Linked DNA regions of Homo sapiens. The protein of the gene in region 2 purifies or fractionates together with the protein of the main gene of each other region. This does not show direct contact. Each region holds a gene or a part of one and is shown on either strand. Other genes may lie near its edges.

The links. The genes of interacting proteins can lie anywhere in the genome.
Region 1: the proteins of ZNF778 (region 2) and SNX16 purify together in Homo sapiens (affinity purification with mass spectrometry; one large-scale study listed by BioGRID and IntAct). This does not show direct contact.

Annotation. Positions count from the first base shown.
Region 1 is NC_000008.11:81,835,686-81,839,185, forward strand, and holds part of SNX16 (sorting nexin-16), read right to left. Parts: intron 1-3,500. UniProt on the Homo sapiens protein: May be involved in several stages of intracellular trafficking. Plays a role in protein transport from early to late endosomes. Plays a role in protein transport to the lysosome. Promotes degradation of EGFR after EGF signaling.
Region 2 is NC_000016.10:89,224,203-89,227,702, reverse strand, and holds part of ZNF778 (zinc finger protein 778), read right to left. Parts: intron 2,985-3,500; coding exon 2,901-2,984; intron 2,149-2,900; coding exon 2,072-2,148; intron 1,010-2,071; coding exon 1-1,009. UniProt on the Homo sapiens protein: May be involved in transcriptional regulation.

The DNA.
Region 1 (3,500 bases), on a different chromosome or scaffold from region 2:
CATTTCCCAACAAGTTCCTCATCTCCAACTAAGACTACCTCAGCCTGGACTGTAGAAAGAGGTTTATTTGACTTACAGTTCCACATGGCTGGGAGGCCTCACAATCATGATGGAAGGTGAAAGGCAAGTCTCACATGCTGGCAGACAAGAGAGGACAGCTTGTGCAGGGAGACTCCCGCTTTTAAAACCATCAGATCTTGTGAGACTTATTCACTATCACAAGAACAGTATGGGAAAGACCTGCCCCAATGATTGCCCCTTGTCCCTCATCTGAGACAAGGCAAGTCCCTTTTGCCTATCAGCTTGTAAAATCAAAAGCAAGTTAGCTATACTTCCTAATTACCTCCCACCAGGTCTCTCCCACAACACATGGGAATTAAATGAGATTTAGGTGGGGACACAGCCAAACCATATCAGTGAGCAAGAAATGAAACATTACCAATCAAAGAGGTCCATAGCATGCTTCCTTCCCAATTCTACTCACTACACATCCTAGTCAATTTTTGTCTTTAAACAACCTTTTTAAAGACTAGACACCTTATATATTATCAGATCAAGAGTGAGTCCTAATACTTTTTTCAGTTATGAGAGCAATTCAAAAGAATATATCTAGAAAAAATTATTTTACAAACCTAAGATTCTCAAGTTTGTATCTCCAGCTTATACCTCTCCCTTAAACTCAGCTTATATGTATACACACACATTACATATGTATGTGTACACATTAACACATGTAACATCTCCATTTCAATGTTGAACAGACATATCAAATCTAGCATGTCTAAAAACAAATTTTGATCATCCCTCAAAACCTGTCATTTAATTAAATGGCAGCCATATCTTCCCATTGTTTAGGCCAAAACTTTTGAAGTCACCTTTGACCTCTCTTTCTCCCACACTCCACTTCCAAATCATTAGGAAATATTGCCGGTTCTACTTTTAAAACAAATCCAGAACCTGATCACTTCTCAGGACTTCCTCCACCACCCCAGTCCACACTACCATCATGTTTCCCTTGGATTACTAAAAGAACCTACTAACTGCTTCCTGCTTTGACTGTCCCCCATCTCGACCAAACCAGTCTCAATTCAGTAGCCAGAATGAACTTTTTAAAACATTGTCAGATCACATGACTCTTCTTTTAAAAACCTTTTAAAAGATTCTCATCTCATGCAGAGTAAAATCCAAAGTCTTCACAGTGCCTCCTTCCCTATGTGATCTGTGTGCCACACTTCCCTGCCTGTCATCTCATTCCCTACACCTCCCACAGCTTACTCTGCTGTCAGCCACAAGGATCTTTGTAGTTGTCCCATCTGTGTTGAAAACACATTCTCATGGCTCATTCCCTGTTAGCACTAACATCTTTTTGTGAGGCCATGACTGATAGTGCTATTTAAATCCCAACCCCAGATTTGGGGAAACTCCCTGTCTTCCTTCTCTGTTTTATTTCTCTCTATAGTGCTTATCACCATGTGACATATCAGGCGTCTTATTATTTACTTACTTATCATGCTTTCATTCAAATTGCTGTACCACTATTACCCAGAACAGTGCCTGAGGCATAATAGGTAATTAAAAAAATGTTGAGTTAATAAATAAATGAATATGACTAATTTCATATCTGTCATTTACTTCCTCCTCTCCAGTCTCTTGAAATGCTTTACATAACACCACCTTGTATTTGGCCAAATACTTGCATCTTCACACATATCATCTGTCTTAGTCTGTTAGGTCTGTTATAACAAAATACCATAAATTTGGTAGCTTGTAAACAAAGAAATTTATTTCTCAAAGTTCTAAAGTCTGAGAAGTCCAAGATCAAGACAGTAACAGATTTGGTATCTGGAGAGGGCCTACTTTCTGGTTTATAGATGGTGCCTTATAGCTATGTCCTCAGATGTGTAAAGGACAAAAAGCTCTCTGGGGCCTCTTTTTAAGGGTCCTAATCCTATTTATGGGGGCTCTGCTCCCATGACCTACTGGCTTCCAAAAGCTCCATCTCTTAATACCATCACCTTGAAGGTTAGGTTTCAACATATGAATTTTGAAGGAACGCACATTCAGACCATAGTATCAACTCAATAAATGCCTATTTCTTAATTCAGGAAATTGGCCATCAGTTTATATTTTCTAAAAATTTTCTAAAAAGAGAGAGAGAGACAGAGTTCCCTGAAGATTTCCTATATCACAGTCTTATGATAATTTTAAAGACTGCCTCTTCATAAATTATCTCAACAATTTTTCCTTGGAGGTCCTCCCATCCTGTCATAAATTTACAGCATGAAACATTGAAGTAAACATTAAACTTTACTAAAAGAACAAAGTCTTACCAAAAAAGTAAACCTTTTGAGTTAATAAGAGAGTTGAGCAAGGTTGCTGGATATGTAAACATAAAAGGACAAATTATATAAAATAGCAGTAAATAGAAAACAAAAATAGATGTCTCTCACAAGAACATCAAACAACATCCATATCCTGAAATAAATCTAACCAACAGATGTAAGAACCCTGCACCAAAAACAACAAAACATTACTAGAAAAAAATGACTTAAGTAAATGGATTAGGTTCATAGATTTGAAAACTCAGTAAAGATGTCAGTTCTCCCCAGATTAATCTATAGATCTAACAAAATCTCAATGCAAAGGGTGAAGAATAGCCAAGGCCATCCTGAAGAAAAAAGCTAAAGTACATACACTGCTACATATCAAGACCTATTATAAGACTTTATTAATTAAGACAGTGTGAAATTAGTAAAGGATGAAAAAATAGAACACAGAAGCAGACCCATGCATTTATGGTCACATGATTTATGACACAGACAACACTGAAAATGAAGAGGAGAGAGAGTGGTCTTTCAAATAAAAGCCTGATTAATTGGTCCCATCTGGAAAAAAAAAAAAAAAAAGACTTGACCCTCACCTCACACCATGGACAAAAATCAATTCTGGTGGTTTACGAATCTAAATGTGAAAGGTCCAACAATAAAGATTTTAGAAGAAAACATAGGACAGTATCTTTGTAGCCTTGGAGTAGGCAAAGATTTCAAAAAGTGCTAGCCATTAAAAAAAGTAATAAATCAAGCCAAATTAAAATTAAGAACTTTTGTTTATCAAATGTATTATTAAGGAATTGAAAAGGCAAACCACAGAGTGAGAGGATAGTCATAATACATGTATCTGAAAAAAAAATTATATCCAAAGTGCACAGAAAACTACAAATCAAAAGGGAGACTTCCCAAAAGAAAAATGAACAAAAATCATGCACAGATATTTCACAAGAGAATATCCAAACAGCCCAAAAAAATTTTAAATTCAATTAGTCATTAAGAAAATTCAAATTAAAACCACAACCAATGTGATATTACTCTGTACCCATGAGAACAGCTGAAATGATAAAAATGTTAAAATATCACATGTTAGGAAGCTATGGATCAACTGGAACTCTTATATGCTGCTTTTAGGAGTATAAATCAGTACAACCATTCTGAAACACTGTTCAC
Region 2 (3,500 bases):
TGTGAGTCCTTACATGCTCAGTAAGGCCCGAGGATGTACAGAAGGCTTTCCCGCAGTCCTTACACGTGTATGGCTTCTCGCCCGTGTGTGTTCGTACGTGTCTAGTAAGGCCACAGCGCACAGTGAAGGCCTTCCCACAGTAGCTGCATGTATAGGGTTTTATTCCAGTGTGAATTCGAACATGATTATTAAGGCATGAGGAATTTCTAAAATATTTTCCGCAAACCACACATGCAAAGGGCTTCTCCCTCGTGTGAGTTTTTCCATGCTCATTCAGTAGATAAAACCCACCGCAGGCTTTCCCACAGTCCTTACATTCATAGGGCTTCTGTCCAGGGTCTGTTTGGACGTGTTTAGAAAGACCTGAGAGTCCAGTGAAGGCTTTTCCGCATTCTTTACATTCACAGGGTTTCTCTGCAGCATGAATTCTTACATGTTGAGTTAGGCTGGAAGAAACAGGGGAGGCTTTTCCACATTCTTCCAATTCACAGGGCTTTTCCCCAGGGTGGACTTGCACGCGACCAGTAAGGTAGGCAGTGTACCTAAAGGCCTTCCCACATTCCCTACATACGTGGGGATTCCTGACGGCATGCATTTCAACAGGTGTGGCGCAGCCCATGGAGTGAGTTAGAGCTTTCCCACACGGCTTCCATTTCCATGTTTCTTCTCCGTTGTGACTTCCCGCACGTGCCTGAAGGTATGACTGATTAAGGAACACTTCCCCACAGCTGCTGTAGTCAAGAGATCTGTCCCGAGTGCATGCTTGCTGGGAAACAACATTTGGAGTAGAGCTGAAGGCTTTTCCACACTGACCCAACACGGAAAACTGCTCTCCAATTTTGAACAAGGTTTTCTGGCATGGAATAAAAAAGTCCCTTTCATAATGATTAGACACACAACTGTCTCCTGTATTTTGAGTTCTCACGTGTGTGCTGAGGCCTGAGTGTTCACTGAAAGCTTCTCCACACTGCGTGCGGTCACAGAGCTGCCCTCCATTGTGGCTTCTTGCCTGTTGGTGAAGAATGAGTGGTGGTCAGGGGGTTACTGAGGCTGATTCATAGATCTCACCCAGCTGAAGACAGAGCATGACGATGATGATTACGATTTTTGCCATTTTCATAACATGCAAGCAGCTCCTGCCCTGTAGATGTCTTTCAAGTCAAATGAGGAGCCCCACTGCAAGAATCCTGTGCCATCAGGACGGGCGCAGCAGCTCATGCCTGTAATCCCAGAACTTTGGGAGGCCGAGGCGGGCAGATCACCTGAGGTCGGGAGTTCAAGACCAGCCTGACCAACATGGAGAAACCCCGTCTCTATTAAAAATACAAAATTAACTGGGCATGGTGGCGCATGCCTGTAATCCCAGCTACTCAGGAGGCTGAGGCAGAAGAATGGCTTGAACCAGGGAGGCAGAGGTTGCGGCGAGCTAAGATTGCGCCGTTGCATTCCAGCCTGGGCAACAAGAGCAAAACTCCATGTCAAAAAAAAGAATCGGCCAGGCACAGTGGCTCACGCCTGTAATCCCAGTACTTTGGGAGGCTGAGGTGGGAGGATCACAAAGTCAAGAGATCGAGACCATCCTGGCCAACATGGTGAAACCCCGTCTCTACTAAAAATACACAAATTAGCTGGGCATGGTGGCACATGCCTCTAGTTCCAGCTACTTGGGAGGCTGAGGCAGGACAATCACTTGAATCCAGGAGGCGGAGGTTGCAGTGAGCCAAGATCGTGCCACTGCGCTCCAGCCTGGTGATGGAGTGAGACTTCATCTCAAAAAAAAAAAAAAGAATCCTGCACCATCTGCTCTAACTTCGAAAAGTCTGTGCGCACAAAACAGCTCTGCGATCTCAAGACCTCGTCATGTGTGCGCTGATGTGTGTCTGAAGCACCAAGTTTCAAGACAGGATGAGGTCCTCCCAAATTCCGCACATTCAGAGTGTTCTCTACAGACAACCCCTGCCTGAGTGAATCCTGCTTCTCTAAATTCTCTCAATTTTGCTCATTTTCTATAGTGGAATTCCCAATCTTTTATGAGTGTGATAAATAAAAAAATCTCTCTTGTTAATCTTACCGTCTGTGTCTCATTTGATGCTCTGAACCAAGATCTATCCTGCCGAAGTGCTGGCCCTTTGGTTTTAAGTCGCCATTCTGAAAAGAAAGAAGAATGACCTAAAAACGATCAAACTCATTGGTATTTGTTTTCATATAAGACATGGCAGAAAAAAAAACAAAGCAAAGATAGATTTAAGGAGTTTGGCTATGTGTAAAATTTGGAATCATAGGAACTGGGAGTCATAATTTAGAAGATTTTAAAATACATTTGGTCCATAAAGAAGAAATGTGAGGTGAACAGAAACAATATTATCAATGAAAGAAAGCAGGAAAGAGCTGGACAAAGGGCATACATTCAAAACACAAACTTGGCCAGGCGTGGCAGCACGCACCTGTAATCCCAGCTACTCAGGAGGCTGAGGCAGAAGAACTGAGTGAACCCAGGAGGCAGAGTTTGCAGTGAGCCAAGATTGTGCCACTGCACTCCAGCCTGGGCAACAGAGCAAGACTCCGTCTCAAAAAAAAAAAAAAAAAAAAAACCCACAAACTGAAAGAACAAAACAGCAGGTTTTTTATGAGATCACAAGAAAGGGAAAATCCAGATCAGATGGAAAATAAGGAATTACGGGAAGCTCAGGATACCCAGAGCCAACAGCCTCATGTTCTGTGCCAGAATGCATCTTAAAACGTGCACTCAGGATTCTTCCACAGCCGCTAAACTCGACACTCAGGATCCTCCCACAGCCGCTTAACTTGACACAATCCTTCCATAGCCGCTAAACTTGACACTCAGGATCCTCCCACAGCTGCTAAACTTGACATCGACCAGGCGTGCTCTTCACACTTACCTTGGAGAACTGCTCTCCGCCCTGCCCTCAACTCCTCTTCCTGCTCCAGCCAATAGATCACACTGGGTTGGAACAGGTGATGTCCTGTACACAGGGAAAGAGACATCGATGGAAGAGGCTCAGGCAGGGGATGACAAACCTACCCGTGAACAGGAACTACATTTCCTTTTTTTTATTATTTTTTGAGACAGCGTCTCGCGCTGTTGCCCAGGCTGGAGTGCAGTGGTGCAATCTCGGCTCACTGCAACGTCTGCCTCCTGGGTTCAAGTGATTCTCTTGCCTCAGCCTCCTAAGTAGCTGGGACTATAGGTGCCCGCCACCACGCCTGGCTAGTTTTTTGTATTTTTAGTAGAGATGGGGTTTCACCGTGTTGGTCAGAATGGTCTCAATCTCCTGACCTTGTGATCCGCCCACCCCGGCCTCTCAAAAGTGCTAGGATTACAGGCATGAGCCACTGCGTCTGGCGTCCCAGAGTGCTCGGATTACAGGCGTGAGCCACTGCGCCCAGCCTCCCAAAGTGCTGGGATTACAGGCATGAGCCACTGCGTCCAGCATCCCAGAGTGCTGGGATTACAGGCGTGGCCACCACACCCTGCCTCC